2 linked regions of the Homo sapiens genome follow. The protein of the gene in region 1 purifies or fractionates together with the protein of each later gene. This does not show direct contact. Each region holds a gene or a part of one and is shown on either strand. Other genes may lie near its edges. The genes, in order: RERG and ARHGEF17.

Region 1 (10,494 bases):
TATTCTTAGTGTGATTTTATTTGGAGATAGAACCTTTCCAAAAAAGAATTAAGGTTAAATGAGGTCATAAGGATGGATCAGATCCAATAAGACGAATGTCCTTATAAAGAGAAACACTGGAAAGCTCTCTTTGTCTCTCCACACACTCATACAGAGGAAGTCGTGTGAGCACATAAAGAGGGCCGCCTGCTGGCCAAAAGAAGAGGCTTCAGAATGAAACTTTCTTGGACTTCTTAACCTCCATAAATGTGAGAAATATATTTCTGTTGTTTAAGTTACCCATTCCGGGGTACTTTGTCATGGCAGCCTGAGCAGACTAATTCAGTAGGTTTGACATTGTAGATGATGGTTATACAGGCTCTGGATCCTGTTAACTTTTTCAAGAGTGTTGTATTTTGTTTTGGCAGGCTGTTAATTTGCTGGTGGATTAGATTGCTCCTGTAAAGGTCTCATTTTAGTCTCTGTTGTAGGGGGTTGTCTTTCAGATCCACCCTTAGTCCCAGGTTACAGCCCTTCTGCCTAAGGCATTAATGGTCCTCACTCCTACTTCACAAAGATTTCTGAACGCTGACTGGGCTGAAACTCGGATGTCTTCTCAGCACTCAGAGAACTCTGTAATTCACATCTTGGGATTCAGGAGCTTTCAGACTTTAGGCAGCTGTTCTTTTTTTTTTCAGTCCTTTTTTTTTTTATTACACTTTAAGTTTTAGGGTACATGTGCACATTGTGCAGGTTAGTTACATATGTATACATGTGCCATGCTGGTGCGCTGCACCCACTAACTCGTCATCTAGCATTAGGTATATCTCCCAATGCTATCCCTCCCCCCTCCCCCCACCCCACCACAGTCCCCAGAGTGTGATATTCCCCTTCCTGTGTCCATGTGATCTCATTGTTCAATTCCCACCTATGAGTGGGAATATGCGGTGTTTGGTTTTTCGTTCTTGCGATAGTTCACTGAGAATGATGATTTCCAATTCCATCCATGTCCCTACAAAGGACATGAACTCATCATTTTTTATGGCTGCATAGTATTCCATGGTGTATATGTGCCACATTTTCTTAATCCAGTCTATCATTGTCGGACATTTGGGTTGGTTCCAAGTCTTTGCTATTGTGAATAATGCCACAATGAACATACGTGTGCATGTGTCTTTATAGCAGCAAGATTTATAGTCCTTTGGGTATATACCCAGTAATGGGATGGCTGGGTCAAATGGTATTTCTAGTTCTAGATCCCTGAGGAATCGCCACACTGACTTCCACAATGGTTGAACTAGTTTACTGTCCAACCAACAGTGTAAAAGTGTTCCTATTTCTCCACATCCTCTCCAGCACCTGTTGTTTCCTGACTTTTTAATGATTGCCATTCTAAGTGGTGTGAGATGGTATCTCATTGTGGTTTTGTGTGAGATGTTATCTCATTGTGGTTTTGATTTGCATTTCTCTGATGGCCAGTGATGATGTTTACCAGATGTCTCAGAGACTCACCACGCAATGTGCAGCCCTGAAATTAGCCAAGATCCTAGGGACATTTCCATGCAAATATCTGAGCTTCTGTCTCCGTGGCTGCTGCCCTTTCTGATAGCCTTCTGAACCCAGTTGCTTTAGTAGCCCTGAACCCTAATCTCTCACTGATGTTTGGGCTTCACTTTCATGGATATGGGCCCTTAAAATGCCCCCAACAAGAAAATTTGTGTGCCTGTGAGGCTAAACTCCAGTACATCCCCTCTGTCAGATGTGCAGCCCTGCCTTGGTTGTTTGCCAATGCTTCCAAACAGCTATTTTGTATATTTTGGTTAGCCTTTATAGTTGTTCCCAGTAAACAGGAAAGTTCAATCTCAGCTAAAATCAGTCTTGCCTTTGCCTAATATTTAACTAAATAAATGGTAACAGCAATTAAATACTCATCCCAAAGTCAAAAGATAATCATTAGTAGCAACAAAATAAGGAAATGAGTATAATTTCTTGCCATGTAACTTCAAAATGAAATAAAGAAAATAAACGATCATGATATAGAAAGTCCTGGCTTTCCAGAAGCAGTACTGATGAGTGATCAAATCGTAAGTATTATTTCTCACCAGTTAAGAATGTCTGCAAATTTGGAGTGAAATGAACTGAGCAACTACACTTACCCTTTTCTGATGGGAGGAGAGGGCAGAGTGAGTAGTCATAGTAGAAATGGCTTGGGAGAGAGAGTAGAGGGCTCCAAGAATGAATGAAGAGTGCAATCTCAGGCTTAAGGGAATCTTTCTGAAACAGTATGTGATCCTGATGGCCTGCATTAAATCCTGAGACAGAGTCTTTAGTAAAACCTGAGAACAAAAGCAGAGCATGTAACCTCTCTCAGAGGCTGCACAGAGACTCAGAAGCCCTCACCTTCTCATCTCGGGATGGTAGACAGAATGCAATGCTCACCTTCAAACCATTGCTTTATAGAAAAAACAAACAGGCCTCAGACAAGGTAGGAATGAAGTCAAGCACAATTAACTGAATTTGTATCATAGCAAATATGAGTCTTGATCTAAAAAAGAAACCAATAATAAATATAAAAACACACTACACAGGAAAAAAAAGGAGGAGAAGGTCATTGTAAGCAAAAGTAGGCTAATAACAAATTTAAAAACAACAAGAAAAGGAAGAAACAGGTATTCTCAATTATACAATACAGCACCTGCAAGACCTTCTTGAAAACATTGCTTAATGAAGATATCAAGGGATGAATCAAAATAATCAATAATAGAAAAAACATGATAAAAGAATCAATGAAAGAAATTTATTCTATTTAAATATAGAACTAAGTTTAAACCACTTTGGGAATGAGAGTTATAAGTGGAAAGTGAATGTTACAAATCTTGACAATGAACAAACGAAACCTGTGTAAAAATATAGAAGGAGGGAAGAAAAAAAGAGACATAATAAAAGAGCTATTTTCTTCTTTTTAAATAGCAAACAGTCAGTTGATATTGACTAAAACAAATATATGTTTAAGCATAATGAATTCAGATCTGGTTTTATGTAATAATTCAAACTGTAAAGGAATCTTTAGGGTGAATATCTCATGAAGTAAGTGACTATCTCATGAAGTGAGTAAATATCTAAAGTTTGGTCAGCCTTTAATGTTCACTTTAATTTTGTTATCTTCTGCTTCATTAAGTGTACTTTTAAATTAAAAATAGCATCTACAGGATGATGACACTTAGCATATCTGTGCCATTTCACATACCTGTCCATCAGGATGTCTGTTTTCTACAATATCTGGAATGATGATGGTCCCCTTATGTTAACAATGGTTATTATTTCTGGATAGTGTGATTCTGGGGATGATTTTCTACATCTTTGTATTTTTCTACTGTTTGAATTATTTATAACAAACATGATTAACAGCTACACAGACATACACACACACAATTCCAGTTTCTAACATGCTTTGTGGTTATATCAACACTTCGTCTACTTGTTTTGTGTTAGAGGTTTTAGCTGAAGCCTAAGGCCAGGCTAAGAGACTTGAATGTGACAAGGACTTCCCCTTTCCCCAGGAGAATTCTTGCCCAGCAAACATATGTCATGGAACCGTAAGTACAAAGTGTCCTCTGCCCTTCTTACTGATCCATGAGGCAGGCAGCACAAGAGAGCGTGCCTCTTTTTGCTGCTTTAGAGACAAAGGAAGCAGCCCGCAGAATATAGGATACATACGGAAGATGTAACACAGTGGGAGTCAGGCTCCAAGATAGCTACTTCATCTATCTTAGAGCAGCACATCAAGAACTGCAGATGTGTATGCAAATGCCTCCCTAGTTGAGGGAGGAATGCTGTTGTTATATGGGCTAAGCAGGAAAATGGAGAGAATCAGGTTCCATAGGCAAGTTCCAAAAGAACTACTACAAATGGGACCTGGCTTGGGCCCTCTTCGAAAACTTACTATTATTATTTTTTTCTTGAGACAGAGTCTCTTTTTGTCACCTAGGCTGGAGTGCAATGGCACGATCTTGGCTTGTTACAACCACCGCCTCTGGGGTTCAAGTGATTCTCTTGCCTCAGCCTCTGGAGTAGCTGGGATTACAGGCTCCTTCCACAACGCCTGGCTAATTTTTATATTTTTAGTAGAGATGGGGTTTCACCACGTTGGCCAGGCTGGTCTCGAACTTCTGACCTCAGGTGATCCGCCCATCTCAGCCTCCCAAAGTGTTGGGATTACAGATGCGTGCCACCACGCCTGGCTAATTTTTTGTATTTTTAGTAGAGACGCTGTCTCTACCCATGTTGCCCAGGCTGGTCAATAACTCTTATTAAATAAGAGTGGCAAAGTGGGAATTCCAACTCAAGTCTCTGTAAATAGTATATTTACAGATATAGGGTCACAGATTTTTTTTTTTTTATTAAATCTTGCCCTGAGTATAAGATTTAATGGGGGAAACAAGGTAACATGTGAAACCTGAACACCTTAATGCCACACGATTCCATGTAATTGGAATTCTGTAAGATTCTATATAATGAATCTGGGTAATTATTATCCCATCCCAGACTTCAAAGATCTTCTGCATGCTAAGACACCAAAGTCTCTCTCTTTTCCAGGCCTCTTTCTTAAATGTCGCAGCCCCATACATTCAATTTCTTACTGGATGGTCTATCCTAAATCCAGTATGTAAAAAAGCTCAAACATATCCTATCACAACTTCTTCTTTATCTTAATTCATTCAATTCAGTAGGTATTCTTTAACTACCTACTATATGCCAGGCTGTAGGTATACACACTGTATGGATGATGCTGGGAATACAGAAGTCACACATGGTACATTCCTGGCTTCTGGGAGCTCACAGATTAATGGAGAGGACTAAGGGGCAGAAATGAGTACAACACAAACACAATGATAAGATCACAGGGTCCTGTGAGATACAGAGGGAGGCATCTAATCCAGATGTATGTGGTGTGGAGGGAGGGGTACATTAGTGATCAGGAAACTCATAAACCATACAATGTTTGAGCTTTCTCAAAGAACCAGCAGGGCAGCTCCTGCTCAGCTAGGCAACTCCTCTTTTTGCCATAGATCTAGCTGTTCCATTCAGCCATTCACTCGTGGCTGCAGTGACCTTCCAGGTCAGTCTGGACTCTGGAAATTGCCTCCATGGTTACCTCCCTTCCCATTGATGACATTCTACAGATCGTTCAGTTTGCCCTAGGCCCCTGTCTGTTCTATATAACACTGGTTTTCTGGAAGCCGTTTGGTATCTTGGTAAGAATACCCAGATTTATAAGGGAAAAACAATAACATAAGTGCCTCCTGCTTCTTTGCTCAGATGTTTCAGTTTTTGGGAGATCATTTAGCCTCTCTGAAGCTCACCTCCTCATCTGTGAAAGGCTAGTAATTATAATACTAGTTCTTACATGAAGAGAGGGTGTAAAAATCAAATCAGATGAGGGATATGAAAGCAGGTCCAGCACAGCTCGCATATTAATTGTCTTTGTTAGGGTCTGAGCATAATGGAGTATGACTCCAATGCAAATCCTATAAATGCTGATCCTGTAAGGAGGACGAGAAGCTTTTGGAACTTTCTCAAATATATGAATAGAATTTCAATTGAATTCCTTGTTTGTTTTTCCTAGCATCTCTCAGTTCCCAATCCAGTCTGGATTTCATTCCAGCCATTTACTAGCCTTGCGTTACCTTCTCCTTCAGTTTCCTCTTGGGTATCATGGAGATAATTAAAGATACTTCAAAGAGATATTGCGAGGATCATTTGAAATAAGGAATAGAAAACACCACGTAGTGATGCTTTCTTAGGCAAGGTTTTGACCGAGGAAAGCCGCCCTTCGGTGGGAGCCTGGAGGCTTGGAAATAACCAGTGAAAAAGGGAAGCCCGTCTTGGGTGCAGCACGTTAAAGACCCAAGCTCGCAAGCCTGGGAGGCAGCGCGGCGGGAGGAGCCTGCCCCTGCCCCCAGTAGGGGGCGCCGAAGCGCCGCACTGCAGCATCCTGGCCGCTGAGCGCAGCGGCCTTGGCCGGGCTCAGCTCGCGTCCTGCCGCAGTCCCTCCGCCGCTAGTCGGAGCGAGCGCGAGTGAGGAGACCCCCGCCGGGCCACTGGCACTTGCTTCTGCGGCGAGTCCCACCCACGACCGCAGCCCAGCAACTCGCAAACGCAACCTGAAGCCTGGGCTGCGCAGTGTGGGAGGGCTTCGCGATCTTGGGGGACCCATTCCGAACTTGCAGAGGACCGTAGCTCTCCTGGCCTGGAGAGTGTGAACAGGTGAGTGTCACGCACGTGTCCAGGCAGCTCTTTCGGGACGACTTCCTGCAGACCCATTCCGAGCCCTGAGCGCGCTCGGCCTCTGAGTCGGTCCTCTTGGTCACCGGGTTCTCCTCCCAGGGCGGCTTTGGGGTTCGCTGCGAGGGAGATGTGAACACCAGCAGCCTATCTTGACAGGGCTCTCCTAGCTGAGAGGGAAAATGCCCTTTTGACTTAAGGCTGCATTTTCTCCCTAGCCTGAAAGCAAGTGACTTGCAGTCCACAATGGATTTGTTTATTCTTGCAAGATACCTGTTGAGTTCAGAGCAACATTAAATAGCCAAGGGGCTTATACAATTATCCTGGTTTGCTGTGGGTACTGCGTAGTGATAAGAAGAGGAAGAATTCCTAGTAATGAGACCAGGAAAACTTGATTTCAGAACCAGAGAAGGGGAGGCCAAAAAAGAAGAGAATCTCATTTCCAGGCCTAGACTAGGGTCTTTGCTTCCCTAAATAGCTACACTTGATTTTGATGAGCGCATGCAAACAGAAGTTCCAAGCATGATTACCTTATAAAGACGCTTGCTTGCCCCACCCCCAAGAGGAAGTAGAAAGCATGAACCTTGATAAATATAGCCTTGAGAATGATTTATTAGGAATGAAAACTTTCTTTAAATAAGTAAGTAAATAAGGTTACAGTTATCTAAATATCATAGGTCTAACAGAGTGTAAGCTCTTCGAAGGGAACTACTTTTATTTGTATGTGCATAGCGTGAAAGTGTGGAATAAATCAATGAATGCATCACTAATAATACAGGATTTTAGCTAGCGTTTTTCCTTTTTCCTTTAATTTATGTTTAGGGAAAAAAAAACCTACACCTTCAAACTAAATAGGTATGATTTTACCTTTAGAGTGATAGCAGCTGAGATGTTTTTGTCCTAATAAGCACCATCCACATAAAAAGTGAATGGCAAATTTCAGCCCTACTCAGAATATTTCAGCAGAACATTAGGACAAATGGATTTTCTTAGATCCACGTATGGAAGCTCTCAGATTATGAATTATTTGGAACATCAGAAACTTGGCAACAGTTTACTTATTACAACAATTTACATATTTATTTTTGTTTTCTATCTTGTCAAATGTAACTTTTCACATTTTCATGTGAGAAATAAAATGTTGAAGAACTCCTGTCAGTTTTGTGTCTTCCTTTAAGTGATTTTTCTAAACATAAAATTAGGTTGACAATAACCAGCTGTATCTTTATTAGGTTATAAATGGAAAAAATAGCCCACACAATTTCTCTTTCTTATGTGAAATTCCTATGCCTCTGGGGCCATTTGGGAGTTACTAAAAAATGTGACTTGTCATTTTTTTAAAATCACATTTGATGGCTACTTTCATGAAACATTAATCAGACAGATAATTACTTGCATTTTATATCCATGTATATGAACAGTTTTGCATGAAACAAAATTATTGTTTATACTAGCTGCAGACACTTGCGTGTTCAATGTTTCAAAGAAATACTTGCCAGCACCTCTTCTCATTTATAATTTAAATAGTTAATATATCTCCACATATTATGTTTCTGTGATGAAGCCCTGAACCTTAAAAACATAGGGCCTTTTCTTAATGAATGCATCTAAAGTGACAAATAAGGAAATCTTTTTATCTTTAGCCAAAAATATGGGACTGGACAAATTGCAGATGTTTAAGCTTCTGGTTTTTGCTAATAATGATTACTTAGACACTTTGTCATTATTGAGGATGAAGTAAACAATAGCTAATGTTAATGTTGATTTTTCCTTCCTTCAGAGGAAGCTCTGGCACTTTGAAAATCAGCAAATACAAAACCTTATTAGGTACAGGATGATAGCTTAAATACCTAAGGAAGAAAACAATTACATGATAATGTCTTTGTAGAAATACTTTTTCAGGCGGATTTTCACTTTTTAATTTCTCTCTCAAGAAGCTCTTTGTAAAAATTTATAGATGGAAAAATCTGGCAGGAACATTTAACACATTTAGATAACATATTTGTGTTTAAAACATCTTTACTGCCTTGAAAATGGAATGAATTATGCAGACTGGTGTGATTAAGATTAACACGGGTAAAAGTGCTGTGCTGTATTTAGGTTTAAGCCATTGATTGCAAATGTTCGGAATGAGGGGGTCTGCAGTCCGTGTAAAAGATGTGAGGCTTAATGTGATTGGCTGTGCTACAGTATAACCATGGTGGGCAGATTAACGATAGTGAAAATCTCAGGGAATTTACACCGGGTCAGTTTGTCAGGTCATATCTCAAAGTGGAATGCAGTGGACACCATGCTTTTAGAGTGATTAAGATGTTGAGGAGGCAATGCACATGATGAAAAAGGGAGTGAAGGTCAAAAAAACATAAACGAGAGTGTACATTCCGGGAAGAACAAGTGGACAGGCTGGGCCTCATGTTCCTAGAAAAAAGAAGCCTAGGATGGAGCAAAGGGTCCTACTAGATGCTAGGATCCTTGAACGGTTCTGAGTGAAAGAAAAAGTTGACTTGTTTTGAGTTATTTCATAGAGAGAAATGAGGACAAATGAGTAGAAGCCGCAGGGAGACAGTTTAGAGCTCAATATTAGAAAGATAGTTCCTCCTAATTGGAGAAATGAAGCAGCTTTCAGAAGTAATGAGCCCACCTTTCATACCTGGAAGTGGTAAGTCAGGCATGGAATATGGAATGATTGTTATGTCCTAAGGAAAGATTCTTGCTAGAAGAATGGCTAGAAGATTTCTTCAGATGACCCCCACTCCAGCCCCCACCACCACCAAAGCTCTTTCCAAATTTACGTTTCCATGATCCTAAGAACCTAGATGTCACTCCTAAAGCACCAAACTAAATAAGATGTGCTTACTTTGTACATAATGTTATTTCCCAAGCTTTAAGACAGCACTATAAACAAATTTACTTGAAGTCATCATAGAAAAGGAATAACTTGGAGCATGGCATTTATCGTTTTTGTACCAGGGCATTGTGTCCAGCAAAATATAGAAATGTAATCTATGTATTATATATTGATTCCTAGAACATGTGTATCTGTATCTGTCACAGGAATTCATCATGTGATCAAGTGTGAATTGAGAAAAAATTTAACTTTGAGATGCAAAATTGAATTGTGTTGCATTGGAGTTGACTAATATGAATGTATGTTATTCAACCCAAAGAGACATGAAGAGGCCCAAAAGTGACTCTCTCCATTGCCCCACTGCATGTGTTTGTACACTGAATGCTTACAGATAGATGGTAAATGTGTGTATTCACTTTTACTTTCAGTTACTATCAAGAATCAATACCTTCATAAGAAAATTTCTTGAGGAAGTACTTTAGAAATGCTATTGTGTGTGATAATGCACGTTTTAGTACCAACCAGATCCAAATCCAAGTCCTGAATCTACCATTTATTAGTTAAATCATTTACAGTAAGTTACCATAGACTTCTCACAGGATAGTGGTAAAGATCAAACCAGAAAATGTTGAAAAAGTGAATGGTGGCTGGCATATAGTAGATGCTCAATAAATATTAATTCATTTTCCAGTCACTTATGAATTCCCAAATTTCTTTTGTTTAAGGATTGTGGACTCTTCCAAGATTCACAATGATATGGTGAATCCAAAGACTGGAACCAAAAAGATTTACTCAGTGCTTTAGTTTTAACAACAGTAAATTGTCTACCAACACCCATCATGGCTAAAAGTGCGGAGGTCAAACTGGCAATATTTGGGAGAGCAGGCGTGGGCAAGTCAGGTAAGATTTTCGTTGTGGTTGTTATAGTGTGTGTGTGTGGGTGAGTGTGTTTCTTTATTACTGTTTCTTGGGATTGGGCAGGTGAGTAGTTGGTATTCCTCCTATTTTCATTTCTTACTCTTTTAGATAAAGTCTCTTCATCTAGAACTTTTATTTTGCGTAATCGACTGTTACGTATCCTTTTGCTTATTTATGCTGAAGTAGCTTTGCTGATAACACACAAGATAAAGGATATATCAGAGGTCTTGGCATTCTGATTTTTAACAACCTCCAAAGAAATCAGATGATGGAAATTAAAAAATATATATTTGTTCTTTTCTCTATGTATGAGATCTTGAGGGACTGATTTTACATCTCATTCATTTTGATATTCTCAGCAAACAGTCCAGTGTCAAGCATGTGTTAGGTGCTTTAAAAATGCTTAAGTGAATCTAGCTTTATCAGAAACAGAATTGCATTATTGCCAAACACTCAAAAATCCT
Region 2 (10,941 bases), on another chromosome or scaffold:
TCTTCCTCCCTCATTCATTTGTTCAATGAATATTGACTCTGTGTTTCTGAGACGAGCTCAGGTCCAGGCCCTAGTCTTGGGAAAGAATCCAAGGGGTTTGGGATGCAGACAAGGAAACAGTTCATCCAGTAAACAATACTTATTGGGCACCTCCTATATGCCAAGCATCATGCTGGGCCCTCAGGGAGCCCCTAGTCTGATGGAGGAGACAGGTAATAATGAAACATATACAGACCTGGATCATTACAGCTGGGGAAGAGAGCTCAGATCATAAAGAGGACCCAGGCAAGGAAGGTATCACTAGGGAGATGATGAGCTCCTGGAATGGTCCATGGCCAAGAAATGCTAAATACCAGAGGGGCCCTGACCTAGTTGAGGGGCAGAAAATGTATCTGAGTGAGGCCTAGAGCCTCAGAAGGCCTCAGAAGGCATTAGCTCAGTGCAGAAGGGCTGCAACAGAGTCTGTGACTTTGACCAAGCACCTTCACTCCTCTGAGCCTCTGTTTCCTTACCTGTAAAATACTAGACCTTCCTAAGCCACCAGGGATACCGAGGAATAGAAAAGTTAGAGCAGAAATTTCATAAAGTACTAAACATACTATAACCCAATAGAAAAATGAGCAAGAGGCACAAATAAGCACTTCATATGAAAGGAAACACAAGGCCAGGCGTGGTGGCTCATGCCTGTAATCCTAGCATTTTGGGAGGCTGAGATGGGCGGATCACAATGTCAGGAGTTTGAGACCAGCCTGACCAACATGGTGAAACCTTGTGTCTACTAAAATATAAAAATTAGCTGGGCGTGGTGGCATGCACCTGTAATCCCAGCTACTTGGGAGGCTGAGGCAGGAGAATTGCTTGAACCTGGGAGGCAGAGATTGCAATGAGCCAAGATCACACCATTGCACTCCAGCCTGGGCAATAAGAGAGAAACTCCGTCTCAAAAAAAAAAAAAAAAAAAAAAAAGGAAACACAGATGATTAAAAAACATAGACGAGAAATTAGATCCCAGCTTGACAATGCTTCCCAATGTTGATCAATTGCCTGCCCTATGCCCAAGCACTTCTGTCCATGTGTACCTGGAGTCATGCACAATGCTCAGCAAACACCTGGAAACACCCAAATGTGCATCAGCAAGACACTGGATCAACACACTGTGATATAGTCACACACTGAAATAGTCCACATGGCCAGAATGGAGTATAGAGGCATGCAACAATATGGGTAAATCTTTTCTTAATATTAAGAAAAAAGAAGTCCCAACAAATTTTGTAAAGCAAGAAACCCCCCTCCTTTTTTTTTTTTTTTTTTGAGACAGTCTTGCTCTGTTGCCCAGGCTGGAGTGCAGTGGTGTGATCTTGGCTCACTGCAACCTCCACCTCCTGGGTTCAAGTGATTCTCCTGCCTCAGCCTCCCAAGAAGCTGGGATTATAGGCATGCACCACCACGCCTGGCTAATTTTTGTATTTTTAACAGAGGCTGGGTTTCACCATGTTGGCCAGGCTGGTCTTGAACTCCTGGCCTCAAGCAATCCACCCGCCTCAGCCTCCCAAAGTGTTGGGATTACAGGCGTGAGCCACCACGTCCAGCAGGATGCCTTTTTTTTTTTTATAAAGTTAAGAACAACTAAAATGAAAAGATATAGTTTGAAGGAATATATAGTTTGAAGGAATATGTTTGAAGGAAAGCAAGAGAATGCTGAACACAGGATTTGAGATGATGATTTTCTGATTTTCTGTGTGGTGGGACAGCAGGAGGATGGGAGCAGAAGAACTGTATAATGAGATGTGAATTATTTTAAAGGTCCTAGTTGTATTGTTTTGTTTTTTGGCGAAAGCCAATTAAATAACTGATGAGAATGTATCATTATCAAAATATTATAAAGAATTTAATCCTGTGTGCTTAAGGTCTAATTATATAGGAAAGGGGGCAATCTCAGATAGTTTCTATTTGGCTTTGCAATGGAGTCAGAAGAGTCAGATTTCCCCCTAAGACAGCTCCTTCATGGAGCTCATTGCTTCTTGTCCCCGCACTCATCATTTCTCTCCCTCTTAAGTACAGTTGCTCCTCGACTTACGATGAGGTTACATCCCAATAAACCCACTGAAAATATTATAAGTCAAAAAGACATTTAATACACCTAGCCTACCAAACATCAGAGCTTAGCCTAACCCACCTTAAACAGGCCCAGAACACTTCCATAGCCTAGAGTTGGACAAAAATCATCTAACACAAAGCCTATTTTATAATAAAATGCTGAATATCTCATGTAATTTATTGAATACTGAAAGTGAAAAACAGAATGATTATATGTGTGCTCAAAGTATGGTTTCTACTGGATGTACATAGCTTTTGCATCATCATAAAGTCAAAAAATCATTAAGTTGAAATATCATGAGCTGGGGACTTATCTGTACCCGAAGCCCACCAAAGCCCATCACTGGCCATGACCTGTGACCTTCAAAACCTTCCCATCTTGATTTCCCCAAGGGATTCCACGGTCCTCACCTCACTAGATCACCATGACTCACTGGGTAGATGGGCTATTGTTTTCATTACCCTTTCATAGGTGAGGAGCCTGGGGCCCAGAGAAAAGGGGGTGAGCTGCGGAAGGTGAGCCTGGCTTCAAAACCCCAGCGTAGGGTTTCTCTCCACTCTGGTGCCCAGTGCTCCCAGCCCCCTATCAAATAAGTCTTCTTGGGGCTAAAAATTGCTGTACATAATTACCAAGCACCATTAAAATTCCAGATCTCTTCTGTTCATGGAAGATAACTTTGTCTTATACTGGATCATAAGGAGCTGGGGGTGGGAGGGTTCCTGAAGCACTGGAAGCAATCAAGCCACTCTCAGATTGGGTGAGCTTCCCTTTGGACAGAGACCCAGTCTAGATCCTTAAACACCCCCCTCCCCACCAAGGGGATTCCTGAGCCAAAGGCCCCAGCCAGCTCACCTCAAGGCCAAGCCACAGGACTCTGGGAGCCCATGACCTGAACCTCCACTCCTCTCTATCCACTTGCCCATCTGTGATATGGGATAAGGGTTTCTGTCCCAGAACTGACAGGGAGGTGGAAAAGTACAAATTTCAGATAGTAAGAGTCATCATTATGGGGGGAGAGAGTGACTCCTGGGATGAGAGTCCTGTCCCCCACCCCTCCACAACCCACCCCTCCACAACTCACCCCTCCACAACTCACCCCTCCCCAACTCACCCCTCCACAACTCACCCCACAGCACACACCAAAACTTGCCCCAAAGAGCAGAAAGAAAATACTAAAGGAGGTGAGAGTCTGACATCAAATGCCAGAGCCAGAGAGGGCACTCTTGGGGAACCTGAACCACTCCTCACTTTTCAGACACCCCACTCCTCACTTTTCAGACACCAGCAAGTGCAGGGATTTACCCAAGGTCACAGAGTAAGGCCGAACAGAGAGGCACAGGCCAGCAGGGCTCTCTTTTATCAATTTCCTAGAGAAAAGGGAGAGATTTACTCCTTGGCCCCCTTGAGGCAGAGCTGAGATGAGGTTGAGGTGAGGGACTCCCTGGATGCTGGTCTCAACACAGAGAGGAAGCACTTTCTTGCTACAGAGATATTCCACAACTCAAGAGGCTGCCCAGAGAGTGGAGAGTGACCTCCTCATCCTGTGGGGTATATGAGTAGCAAGCAGGTTCTGGAGTCCCGGCTGAGTCCTCTCTCTCTCATTCGGTAGTCAGGCAATCCCTGGGTGTCTACCATCCTTTCCTATCCTCCTGCCTGCCCCTCTCCTCTGAACCCCGTCTCCTAGCCTAGTCTGGCCCAGCTACATCTCCTTGGCTGGACCTGGTGGCAGTGGGGTTGGCTGGGTAATGCACAGACTGCTGACCTAACTATGTGTCCCCGAGGCCTTGCTACTGGGGGTTGGAGGGGCCAGGGCAGTTTGACCAGGCCTGAAGAAGGCTGGGCAGCGCTGGAGGGGCATGGGTCAGACCAGGTTATCCTCTGTTCCTGAGGAGAGTGAGCTCAGGCCCAAGGAGGAGAAGGAGGAGACTGGGGGCTCAAAGGAACGAGAACCTCCTTCTTCATCAGGATTTGGGGGTGCATCTCAGAGCTGGCTGGAGGAGCATGGTGTTTGAAGCCCCTGAAATCTGAATTTTAGCAGGAGCTGCTATTTCCTGACTTGCATAGTGGTCAAAGTTACTTCTCCTTCACGGTCCACAGAGAAGGGGTAATAATATTTGTCCCCAAGGGTGGTTTGTGGATTTTAAAAAATAAGTTAAATAATATTGCCCATACATTATAGGTACTCCATACATTTTCATTCGTTCGTTCATTCGTTAGTTGGGCCGGGAGGATGAATGGGATCTAGAGGCAGGTGGGAATGCGGAAGGGGATGATGCCCCAATACCGAGAACAATGTGAGACTCAGACGGAGGCAGGGGCGGGAGGGGAGCTCAAGCGAGGGATCAGCGTGAAGCCAGAGAAACAACCGACACTTTTCCTGCCAAGAAGGTGAAGCAGCTGCGGGTAAGAGTATAGGTTTGGCAGTGGGAAGTCGAGGGCGTTCCCGTCGAAGCTCCTTTTGTGTATAAGGCCTAAGAAGGGGCAGTGCGCTTTGCGAAGGTCTGAAAAAGACTAAGGGGATTAGGTAACGACTGAAAGGAAGTTTTCACAACTCTCCGTTTTTGGGGGATGGGTGCTGCTTTATCCGTCCAGGACTCCGTGCGTTGGGAAAATCACGCCGCGAGGGGGCGCAAGAGCCGCGTACTCCAGAGCAAGAAGAAAAGGCTCGGGGATCCAGGCGGAGAGTCCAGGAGAAGAGCCGCCAGACTGCAGGGGCAGGTGGAAGGCGTGGCAGCTGGAAAAGTAGGGGTGGGGGCGCGGTCGTGAAGGGTGGGACTTCTGGAGCAACGCTGGGCGGGTTGGGGGCCGGTCGGAGCCGGACAGGCGGCTGGGAGGTGGGATGGGCGGGGCGCTTGGGAGCGAGATGGGGGGACAAGGGCGTGGCTACAGCTAAATTCGCCGCAGAGGGCGGGCGGGGAGGGGGAGGGAAGGGGAGGAGGCGTGGCCTGGGCGGGGAGTAGGGCGCGACGGACCCTTCAGTTAGCCCGCGGCTCCCCGGGCTCTCCCTGGCGCCGAGTCCCACCCCTTTCCCGGCCCAGAGAGTGTGCGTCTGCGTGCACCTGAGTGTCAGTGTGTACGAGAGTTTGTGAGTCCGAGGTTGCCATGTTGGAGCCCCTGGGCAGGAGGTGTTTCCGCGCGGAGGCTGGTGGCCCGCGGTGGACGCGGCGCCCTGGCTGCGAGTCTGCGGAGCTGAGCACGCTCAGCGGTTGTGTGTGTCTCAGCGACTCCCTGGGGGCAGCTCGGCCTGCTGGGCTCCCGAGGGACCTCTCTGGAGGGCCAGAGGGTCGCCTCAGTCTGCAAGTCCTCCAGCAGGCTTTTTCTTCTTCGGCTCCTCCCTGATTCCCTCCCACCACGCGGTTCCCAGGCTCGCGCACGCCCGGAGCCCACCCCCTCTTTTGGGCGCGAGGCCCCGCCCCCCGCCCCCTTGCCTCTGCCGCAAAGTTTATTTGCAACAAAAGGGTGCCAGGAGCGAGCAGCCAAGGGCGTTGGGCAGGCGGACGCAGAGTCGAGGAACCAAGCGCTGGGATCCCGCCCAGGCGGTGCCGCGGTGCCCCTGGTCGCTCCAGCCGCGGCGGGGGCTGGGCCTGGGGGTCGGCGCTGAGGCGGGAGGGGCCGCCCGGGATGGAGACGTTGCGGCCGGTGGCCACAGAAACTTGAGCCGCGGCAGAGAAACCTCTGCTCCGGTCTCTGCGTCCTCTTCCCACACTCCCGTGCGCTGCTTTCGGCGTGGGCCGCTGCGCTCCTAGGGAGTGGGGGCGCAGGGGGGGTTGGCCGCGGCTGCCCGAGGCCAGCCCCCCCGGAGTGAGTTACGCCACTATGGCGGACGGGGCACCCCGGCCCCAGCTTTACCGCAGCGTCTCGTTCAAGCTGCTGGAGCGCTGGAGCGGCGGCCCCGGGCTGAGGGAGGAGGACACGGACACCCCCGGCTTGAGGCGACGCGCCTCGTGCCGGCCGACCACGGCTGCCCGGGGCCAGCCCTCTCGGCGCGTGTCCAAGCTGGCGTCTGGGCCCCTGGCCGCCCCCGCGCAGCCGCGCCCGCTCCGCAGCCTCTCGCCGTCGGTTCGCCAGCTCTCCCGGCGCTTCGACGCGCCGCGTCTGGACGACGGCTCCGCTGGGACCCGAGACGGAGGCGTCTTACCCGCGGCCGCGGAAGAAGCGGCCGAGGGCCCAGCGCGAGGAGCCTGGCCCAGCGTCACCGAGATGCGCAAGCTCTTCGGCGGTCCTGGCTCCAGGAGGCCCAGCGCCGACTCTGAATCCCCAGGAACGCCCAGCCCCGACGGTGCCGCGTGGGAGCCTCCGGCTCGGGAGTCGCGGCAGCCACCGACGCCACCCCCTCGGACATGCTTCCCCCTGGCGGGTCTGCGTTCGGCGCGGCCCCTGACCGGGCCGGAGACCGAAGGGAGGCTGCGCCGGCCGCAGCAGCAACAGGAGCGGGCGCAGCGTCCAGCGGATGGTTTACATTCTTGGCATATCTTCTCCCAACCGCAGGCCGGGGCCCGGGCCTCCTGCTCCTCCTCCTCCATCGCCGCCTCCTATCCTGTCAGCCGCAGTCGTGCTGCCAGCTCCAGCGAGGAGGAAGAGGAGGGCCCGCCGCAGCTGCCTGGAGCCCAGAGTCCGGCCTACCACGGCGGCCACTCCTCGGGCAGTGACGACGACCGAGACGGTGAGGGCGGCCACCGCTGGGGAGGGAGGCCCGGGCTCAGGCCTGGAAGCTCCCTATTGGATCAGGACTGCAGGCCTGACAGTGATGGGTTAAATCTAAGCAGCATGAACTCAGCAGGGGTTTCTGGGAGCCCTGAGCCCCCAACATCTCCAAGAGCCCCTAGAGAAGAAGGACTCCGGGAGTGGGGTAGTGGCTCTCCGCCCTGCGTCCCAGGTCCCCAGGAGGGACTTCGGCCTATGTCTGACTCTGTGGGAGGAGCTTTCCGTGTGGCCAAGGTGAGCTTTCCCTCGTACCTGGCCAGCCCCGCAGGCTCCCGCGGTAGCAGCCGTTATTCCAGCACGGAGACCCTCAAGGACGACGACCTATGGTCTAGTAGGGGTTCTGGGGGCTGGGGCGTGTACCGCTCCCCTAGCTTTGGAGCTGGGGAAGGGCTCCTGCGGTCCCAGGCTCGAACCCGTGCCAAAGGACCTGGAGGCACCTCTAGGGCATTGAGGGATGGAGGATTTGAGCCTGAAAAGAGTCGACAGCGGAAGTCCCTGTCAAATCCAGATATCGCCTCAGAGACCCTGACGCTTCTCAGTTTCCTGCGCTCAGACCTTTCAGAGCTGAGGGTCCGAAAACCTGGTGGGAGCTCCGGGGACCGTGGAAGCAACCCCCTAGATGGCAGAGACTCACCATCCGCAGGTGGCCCTGTGGGGCAACTTGAACCCATACCCATCCCAGCCCCAGCATCACCTGGCACGCGCCCCACACTCAAGGACTTGACAGCCACTCTGCGGAGAGCAAAGTCATTCACCTGCTCTGAGAAGCCCATGGCCCGCCGCCTGCCCCGCACCAGTGCTCTGAAGTCCAGCTCCTCCGAGCTCCTGCTCACAGGCCCTGGTGCCGAGGAGGATCCGCTGCCCCTCATCGTCCAGGACCAATATGTGCAGGAGGCCCGCCAGGTTTTTGAGAAGATCCAGCGCATGGGTGCCCAACAAGATGATGGAAGCGATGCCCCCCCTGGAAGCCCTGACTGGGCAGGGGATGTGACCCGAGGGCAGCGGTCCCAGGAGGAGCTCTCAGGCCCTGAGTCCAGTCTGACAGATGAAGGCATTGGGGCAGACCCTGAGCCTCCTGTTGCAGCATTTTGCGGCCTGGGTACCACAGGGATGTGGCGACCTCTTTCCTCATCCTCGGCCCAGACGAACCACCATGGCCCTGGGACTGAGGACAGTCTGGGCGGGTGGGCCCTGGTGTCGCCTGAGACCCCTCCCACACCAGGTGCCCTCCGCCGACGACGCAAAGTCCCACCTTCAGGTTCTGGTGGGAGCGAATTGAGCAATGGGGAGGCAGGGGAGGCCTACAGGTCCCTGAGTGACCCAATTCCTCAGCGCCACCGGGCTGCCACCTCTGAAGAGCCTACTGGGTTCTCTGTGGACAGCAACCTCCTGGGCTCACTGAGCCCCAAGACAGGGCTCCCTGCCACCTCAGCCATGGATGAGGGCTTGACCAGTGGTCACAGTGACTGGTCTGTGGGCAGTGAAGAGAGCAAGGGATATCAGGAGGTTATTCAGAGCATAGTTCAGGGGCCTGGCACCCTGGGGCGTGTGGTGGACGACAGGATTGCTGGCAAAGCCCCCAAGAAGAAATCCCTGAGTGACCCCAGCCGCCGTGGGGAGCTGGCTGGGCCTGGATTCGAGGGCCCTGGAGGGGAGCCCATCCGAGAAGTTGAGCCCATGCTGCCTCCATCCAGCAGCGAGCCCATCCTTGTAGAGCAGCGGGCAGAGCCAGAAGAACCTGGTGCCACCAGGAGCCGGGCACAGTCTGAAAGGGCCCTACCTGAGGCTCTGCCTCCCCCTGCCACTGCCCACCGAAACTTTCACCTTGACCCCAAGCTGGCTGACATTCTGTCCCCGAGGCTAATCCGCCGAGGCTCCAAGAAGCGCCCAGCTCGGAGTAGTCACCAGGAGCTTCGGAGAGACGAGGGCAGTCAGGACCAGACTGGCAGCCTGTCTCGGGCCCGGCCCTCCTCCAGACACGTTCGCCATGCCAGTGTGCCCGCCACATTTATGCCTATTGTGGTGCCTGAGCCACCAACTTCTGTTGGTCCCCCTGTGGCTGTGCCAGAACCCATAGGCTTCCCTACCCGAGCCCATCCCACGTTGCAGGCACCATCGCTCGAGGACGTCACCAAGCAGTACATGCTGAACCTGCACTCCGGTGAGGTCCCTGCCCCAGTGCCAGTGGACATGCCCTGCTTGCCTCTGGCTGCACCGCCCTCTGCTGAGGCCAAGCCCCCTGAGGCAGCTCGGCCTGCAGATGAGCCTACCCCTGCCAGCAAGTGCTGCAGCAAGCCACAGGTGGTGAGTCCTTTGTAGGGGCCTTCAGATTGGGGCCAAAGAAGGGCCATGGGCACCGACTTCGGTTGGAGCCTTTTGCATTGTATTCACTGGTCAGGTGCCCAGGTGCCAAGGGTGCTTTTCTGGTCCTGGAAGTGCCTGTGCAGTTTTAAGAGTTGTTAATGACACAGGGCTCCTGTCTACTCAGGCCCTGTAGAAGCTTCAGTTTTCTGCTGGTGCTAATGGCAAAGGGTCTTGTCTGCTCCAGGTGTTCTGGGTGGTAATTACAAAGGATTCTTATCTTGTCCTTTGGATGTTTCTCAGGGACTGGTTTTGGAAATCCCTGTGTGGTTCTTTGTTGGAGGGATGAGTGTGATGGCACCCAGCGCAGGCTCAGTCCTTTCTCTGAGGCTTGCTACTCTGTTGGCCAGACCCTTGATAGGATGTTTGGCTCAGGGGCCACAGTTGACATGGGTTTGCCCTTCTTCGTGTGGCTTTCCTGTGACAGGTCAGAATATAGATGTGTTCCTGGGCCTGGGAGAATTGGGGAGGTACAAGGCTTTACTTTATGGAGGAGCAGAGGGGGCTCAGGGTTCTAACTGCAGTTCTGTTCTTGCTGTGTGACATTGGCCTTTCTCTGTGACTTAATCTCCCCAATCAGGGGAGATAGGTGGACAAACTAGTGCCTATGTTTCCATCCAGCTGGTACTGTGCAGATTTGGGGGAGCCTGCGGTTTTGAGTTGGGGACTCTTGGGGCCTGAGTTCTGCCAGAGCCTCCTCAGATGAAAAAAGCTTCTAGATGGGGGCTTCTAGGGGAGGATAGAGGCAGGGAGGGGGCTGCAGAGGCTGGGCAGCCAGGGCCCTTTAGAGAGGTCAGGAGTGGTTCTGGGCCCCATATTCAGGGCTGCCTCTATGGGTCTGGGGGGTCGGTTCTTGTTCCCCCATCCTGTCTGCTTGCATCTTTTCCCCACTCTACCCCCTTCTTGGTGACTCTGAGATGCACCCCGTTTCTGCCAGACCCCCAGCCCTGGGGGCTCACTCTCCCTGAGACCCCTCCTTCTACCTTCTGGCTTCAGCTATCCCTGGAGTTTAGGCTGTGGATTCAGATGGGATCCAGATGGCATATGCCCTGGCATCTGGGTTGGGAGCTAGATTCCAGGCTGTGGATTCTGAGCTGAGCTCAGCGATGGCCAGTGGTTACTTCAACTGTGGCCTGCGCTCCCACTGCGCTCCCTGACTGTGTGAGAAGCCTGGAAATTATAAACCCTGGACTGATTCAGTCACTCCCTTTCCCAGCACTCTCATGGCCCCTCTGAACTCCCTTTCTCTTTGTTTCTCTCTCCTTGTCTCCAGTTACCCCTGGTCCTGGCTCTGGGGTTTCTCATGGAGGCTGCAGAGAGAGCAGGCAGGGAGTGGGGAGCGGGGCGTTTTGAACCTGTCCTTCCTTCTGAGTCCCAGTGAGGGCAGCTCCGGTGCCCCTGAACTCCAGTGCCAGTTCTGAAGGTGGGGGAGGGGAGGAAGACAGCAGGTCCAGTTCTTGTCAGGGGTCTCCTCCCCAGCCTCCTTTCCCATATATCTTTTCTGGGAGCCTTGAAGGCTCAAATGGGGGAGAGGACAGGAGTAAACCAAGGGACTCAGGGAGACTGAAGGTGGGTTGGGGGTGCTTCTAAGAGAAGGCTTTGAGACCCAGAGAGGAGGTGGGAGTTTACAGAACTTCTCCTGCCCCACCTCCCTTCACATTCTCCTCTACCCCCCACCCCTTTCTGGAGCTCTGAGGCGGGACAGATCTGCCATAACATGGGCTTCTCCCTGCCACGAACAGAGGCCTTCTCTGATCTCCAAGCTTTTGCCCACTCCA

What was found.
Region 2: the proteins of RERG (region 1) and ARHGEF17 purify together in Homo sapiens (affinity purification with mass spectrometry; 2 studies listed by BioGRID and IntAct, with this or other methods). This does not show direct contact.

The regions. Positions count from the first base shown.
Region 1 is NC_000012.12:15,216,947-15,227,440, reverse strand, and holds the start of RERG (ras-related and estrogen-regulated growth inhibitor), read left to right. Parts: upstream 1-6,196; 5' UTR 6,197-6,246; exon of another isoform or gene 6,247-6,773; intron 6,774-9,837; 5' UTR 9,838-9,951; coding exon 9,952-10,012; intron 10,013-10,494. Other genes in the region: uncharacterized protein LOC124902886, read right to left, coding at 5,879-6,196. UniProt on the Homo sapiens protein: Binds GDP/GTP and possesses intrinsic GTPase activity. Has higher affinity for GDP than for GTP. In cell lines overexpression leads to a reduction in the rate of proliferation, colony formation and in tumorigenic potential.
Region 2 is NC_000011.10:73,302,725-73,313,665, forward strand, and holds the start of ARHGEF17 (rho guanine nucleotide exchange factor 17), read left to right. Parts: upstream 1-5,551; 5' UTR 5,552-5,914; coding exon 5,915-9,106; intron 9,107-10,941. UniProt on the Homo sapiens protein: Acts as a guanine nucleotide exchange factor (GEF) for RhoA GTPases.